2 separate regions of the Homo sapiens genome follow, and region 1 is linked to region 2. Evidence: fine-mapped expression QTL. A gene starts in region 2. The other region holds a variant in brackets. All regions are shown on one strand. Distances are between the middles of the regions.

What was found. PIP is the estimated chance that this variant, and not a neighbour inherited with it, causes the effect. A credible set is the group of variants that fine-mapping cannot tell apart.
Region 1: its variant is the best candidate, but not a certain one, in a credible set for the expression of VCPIP1 in whole blood (INTERVAL, PIP 0.75).

What each region holds. Positions count from the first base shown.
Region 1 is chr8:66,831,224-66,834,253 of GRCh38, forward strand. It overlaps C8orf44-SGK3 (C8orf44-SGK3 readthrough), which reads left to right. Exons shown (of 19, transcript NM_001204173.2): 10 at 31-88. It overlaps SGK3 (serum/glucocorticoid regulated kinase family member 3), which reads left to right. Exons shown (of 17, transcript NM_001033578.3): 8 at 31-88. Among named protein-coding and RNA genes, the nearest start is that of MCMDC2, 38 kb to the right of the region's middle. The variant A/G (reference allele first, on the strand shown) is at 1,511.
Region 2 is chr8:66,666,200-66,668,699 of GRCh38, forward strand. VCPIP1 (valosin containing protein interacting protein 1) reads right to left here and starts at 1,032. Exons shown (of 3, transcript NM_025054.5): 1 at 1-1,032. The coding sequence starts at 759. It overlaps C8orf44-SGK3 (C8orf44-SGK3 readthrough), which reads left to right and starts at 1,397. Exons shown (of 19, transcript NM_001204173.2): 1 at 1,397-1,502. C8orf44 (chromosome 8 putative open reading frame 44) reads left to right here and starts at 1,397. Exons shown (of 2, transcript NR_161217.1): 1 at 1,397-1,502. RefSeq lists enhancers at 230-749, 1,120-1,629.

The DNA.
Region 1 (3,030 bases), 170 kb after region 2:
AGGCTAATTCTTATTGTTAATTTATTTCAGTGCCAAACCAACTGACTTTGATTTCTTAAAAGTTATTGGAAAAGGCAGCTTTGGCAAGGTAAGAGTGTTTTGTGAGGTTTTTATTTGGTTTTGGTTTTGGTTTTTTTTTTGGAGACAGGGTCTCACTCTGTTGTCCAGGCTGGAGTGTAGTGGTGCAGTCATAGCACACTTGAACTCCTGGGCTCAAGCCATCCTCCCACCTCAGCCTCCCGAGTAGCTGGGACTATAGGCACACACCAGCATGCCTGGCTAATTTTTTCACTCTTTTGTAGACAGGGCCTTGCTCTCTTGCCCAGGCTGGTCTCAAATTTCTTTCCTCAAGTGATCCTCCCACCTTGGCCTCCCAAAGTGCTGGGATTACAGATGTGAGTCACCATCCCCAGCCTAAAGTGTTTTTATTTTCTCATTCAGTAAATAAGTACTTAAGGAATTTATGCTTTATGTGTGTGAGCCACAGGACTTTTTGGTTTCAGGATATGGAATTAAGATACTTTCCCCACCCTCAAAATACTAACAATAATTAGGGAGAAAAGGCATCTACTCAAATTCTATAATAAAGTTCACTTATTCAGAAGGTGTTTGTTGAACACCTACTGTGTGCCAGATACCCTTCTGGGCCCTGGTTAGAAAAATTATGGAAATTGACATGGTTACTACCTTTGTGGTGCTTACAATCTCGGTGGGGGGATAGTCAATTTAAAATATTCAGTCAAGTAAATAAGTACAAATAATAACAGCAGTGCAGGAAATGAAGAATAGGGTGAAATGACAAAGGACAATAGGCAGCTGAGGGAAGATTCCCACTTACATAGCTTCTCAGAAGACATGCTGTTTAAGCCAAAGCTGGAAAGACAAAAATGAGCAGCTGTGTAAATAACAGTTTGAGAAGGAAACGAATGTGTAAAGACCCTGCTTATTTTCTTATGGTGTCAGATGAATCATGTAACTTGACAGTATAGCCATACCAAGGAAGGAGAATCACTTAAGGCCAGGGTTAACAGGAAAGTATCATAGATGAAGTTATCAGAATCATCGAATATATTTAAGTGCTTTTTTTACAGTGTACTTCAGTCTTTAGTAAAAATGGAATATGTATGTGTTTAATCATATTTTGCTATATTTGTAGCTTTTGGTAACTCTAGTTTGTTTTCTGGGTTTCCTTGAGACTAGAAACTGTGGCTATGCAATTAAACCCATGTATGTTTATTCACTCAGCAAATATATATTATCCACCTGCTACATGCTGAGTATTGTGCTAGTATAAGCAATAGAAAGTTAGAAATTAATCCTGCTCTCAAAATCCCCAAAATTCTATTGGAATGCTTGACATAGTTGTCATTAAGAACAAAAGCATTATCTGTCATTAAAAACAAAAGCATTGTGGCACATACCTGTAATCCCAGCTACTTGGGAGCCTGAGGCAGGAAGATCACTTGAGTTCAGGAGTCCAAGACCAGCCTGGGCAACATAGCAAGACCCC[A/G]TCTCAAAAAAAAAAAAAGTCATTATCTTTTGGAAACTTCATGTTTAGATCTAGAGTCTTATCAGGATTTGGTTCTTGCATATAATGTGAGGCATAGCGTCACAATTCATTTTTTTCCATGTGGATAACCAGCTGATCTTATACAGTTTATGAAAACTGGTTTTTTTGTTTGTTTTGTTTTTTTTTTTGCCATCTGATGGGCCACCTGATCTGCAGGGCCACCTTTATCATGTATTCACTATTTACACCTTCACAGATCTGTTTTTAGAATTTTTTTTTTTTTGAAGACAGAGCCTCACTCTGTTCCCAGCCTGGAGTGCAGAGTGCAATGGTGGGATCTCCGCTCACTGCAACCTCTGCATCCCAGCTTCAAGCAATTCTCCTGCCTCAGCCTTCCGAGTAGCTGGGATTTCAGGCACACGCCACCGTGTCTGGCTAATTTTTGTATTTTTAGTGGGGACGGGGTTTTACCATGTTGGCCAGGCTGGTCTTGAACTCCTGACCTCAAGTGATCTGCCTGCCTCGGCCTCCCAAAGTGCTGGGATTACAGGCATGAGCCACTGTGCCCACCCTCTTTTTAGATTTTAAGTTTTGTGTTTCTGTTTCTACATTGCATTTCTGTTCATTTTCTGTTCATTGGCCTATCTGTTTATCCTGACACCAGTACCACATTGTTGTGACACCTGTAGCTTGATATCTAACAGAATTAAGTCCTCCCTTCTTCTTCAAGAGACTATTCTTAGCCCTTTGCATATCAATATAAATAAATTTCAGAATCAACATATCAATTTCTGCAGAAATTCTATTTGAATTTGATTGGGATGGCATTGACTCTGTAGATCAATTTGGGAAGAATTATCATCTTTACAATATTGTGTTGTCAAATCCGTGACCATGGTATATTACTTTGTTAATGTAGCTCATCTTTAATTTTTCCCAATACTATTTTGTGGTATTCTGTTTAGAATTTTTTTTGAGATGGAGTTTCACTTTTGTTGCCCAGGCTGGAGTGCGGTGGCGCAATCTCGGCTCACTGCAACCTCTGCCTCCTGGGTTCAAGCGATTCTACTGCCTCAGCCTCCCCAGTAGTTGGGATTACAGGCGTGTGCCACCACGCCCTGCTAATTTTGTATTATTAGTAGAGACAGGGTTTTTCCATGTTGGTCAGGCTGGTCTCGAACTCCCGACGTCAGATGATCCACCCACCTCAGCCTCCCAAAGTGCTGGGATTACAGGCGTGAGCCACCACACCCAGCCAGGTGTTTGGTTTTTTATGCTGTTGAAAATTGGTGTTAATTCTTGAAGCTGAATATATGCGTTACCTATGACACATTGGTTCTACTCCCTAGTTTACATATCCAACAGAAATGAATATCCACTAGGAAAGGTATATACAGGAATGTTTATAGCATCATTATTCATAAATAATCTAATCTATCAGCAAGAGAGTAGATACATTGTAGTGTGTCATATAATGGAATATTCTGCATAACAAAATATGAGAACTATGCTATATGCCA
Region 2 (2,500 bases):
ATATCGGGCCAGGTGCTGCTGAAAGTGCTGTTTAAGATTCTCTCTTAAGGCATGCCAGAAGAGCTCTCGGCCTACTAGAGCCCGAGACACAGCATGCACCAAGCAGTGTCCATCCCCGTCCACATGCACTGGAATGAGACATTCCTGGCTTTTATTGGCCCGCTTAATGTCCTCCAGAGTGTCATGCAAATACAGGAGGCTTCCGGAGCGGTCCTTGCCATAGCCCACAGTGTTAACATGCTCTGGTTCTATGAGGAAGGCGCGGTCACCCAGTAAGGCGCAATCGAACAGTTCGCCCTGGTTCATGTCCCGGAGAAGCTTGGCCCGGCCTGTCTGTTTGTCCATTCCATAGCGAGCTAATATGGGCGACAACAATTTGCAGTGATAGTTGGAAAGGCCCATCACCTTTACCAGTTCCGTGTTCTTCTTGGGTGCCCCCGTAACCCCGAGCAGCGCGTTCCGCAGCAGGTTGTGTAGCACTACGTCCGGGTCGGTCACCTCCTCAACCCCCAGCAGCTGTTGCTGCTCGTGCCGCTGGCCGCACTCGGTACACTCGATGCTGACAGAACCGGAGGCCGGGAAAAATAGACGCGCCTGACACTTCGGATCCGGGCAGCTCCCGGAAAGGATTCTCCGGTCTCTCCGCTTCAAAAGCCCCCCCGAAGCAGCCGCCGACGCCAAGGACGACGGAGTCTGTGGAGCCTCAGGGGGAGGAGGTGGCGGCGGCAACGGAGGCGGCGGCGGCGGCGGCTGAGACATAGCTCCTGGCTCTCGTGTCTCGCTCCGCGTCCCAGGCGACCCTCAAAAGCTCATAGCCCAGACCCCCACCAACCCGACTCGGTCCAGTCCAGGCCCAGGGCGAAGCACTTTCCTTTCCCTACCAGCTCTTCCTCCTCCTAAGCGAAGGCGGAAGCGCCGGACGTTGTTTCTCTTCTTACTTCTCCACTGCCGTAGCCGTTGCCCCGAACGTAACGGCCACCACCCCACCCCGCACTCACACTCACTCACTCTCGCTCTCTCTCCCTCAGACACAGACATACACGCCCTCATTGAGTGTGCGCAGGCGCAGCTTCCGCTCTGCCCTCTGGGAATTAGAGTCTTCCAGCCTCTGTGCTGGCCATCAAGCCCTAGGATCTTGAGTCCAGAAGGAACTACAAGTACCGTGAGGCCAAGCGGTTCAGCGCTAGAGGAGAGGAGGAAGAGGACGGCAACAGGAAAAGGGGCGAAAGAAAGATGGTGACTCGCGTTGCCTGCCGGTAGTTGTAGTTTTACTGGGCTCTCCTTCGTCGTCTTCCCCACTCTGCAGCCCAAGGCAAAGAGTCTGAGAGACCACATTTCCTAGGATGCCGTGCGGTGCGTCTAGCTGCACTTCCTCCTTAGGCGGAGGGGAGGATTCAGGGAAGCTTGGTTAAAAACAGTTATGGCAGTGGGAGTCGAAGCGAGGGTCTGAAGTTCACGACTACTAGAAGGGGAGGGGAGTGGAAAGGCTCTCAGTGAAAAAGGTACAGTAAATAAATGTCCAGGGATATTGGGGGCTGGGAAGTTGAATAAATGGTCTAATCTAGGCTGGAGGCCATAAGGGGGAAAACAGTTGATTCTCGGAAGCTCTGCCTTCTCCCCCTCTCTAGTGCGAATCACTGAGGCGCCATTTGATTTCTCGTTTCCTGCATGTTTTGGCAGTTTACAGTGCAAATAACGGTACCTTGGATGTCTGTAGAGTTTTGTGTGCATATACAAATTCTCTTAACTAGGTTTAATTTCATTTGCTCTTTACCACCCTACTCCCCAGAGAATAATAAGAGCCATCATGTGTTAAGTTCTTAATATGTGTCTGGACAGCATTTGCATAACACGATATCATTTGATCTTAAAAAATAACCTTCTTAGGAAACAGGCCCAGAAAGGAAATGACTTGCTAAAGTTCACGCAGCTGATAAGTGAGTGGATAGACATTCAGATCTCAACCTGTCTTCTTTTTACAGATCAGGACATAGGCAGGAAAGGTTAGGCCTGTATTACATAGAATAGTAACTAGCATTTGCTTACTATTGCCTTATAGTTTACATATTTAATAATATGTTCACATGTATCATCTCATCCTCACACCAGTCCTGTAATACCTTTACCAGGTGGTGTTGACTTCATTTACAATCAGGGAAACTGAGACTAAAAGGAATTAAGTGACTTGCCCAAGGTCAAGTCACCAGTTATGCTGGATCCCAATCTCAAACCTTGAGAGTGATTTTTACGCTGCTGCTTACCAAAAAATCCCGGCCGGGCGCGGTGGCTCACGCCTGTAGTCCCAGCACTTTGGGACGCTGAGGCGGATGCATCACGAAGTCAGGAGATCGAGACCATCCTGGCTAACATGGTGAAACCCCGTCTCTACTAAAAATACAAAAAAATTAGCCGGGCGTAGTGGCGGGCGCCTGTAGTCCCAGCTACTTGGGAGGCCGAGGCAGGAGAATGGCGTGAACCCGGGAGGCGGAGCTTGCAGTGA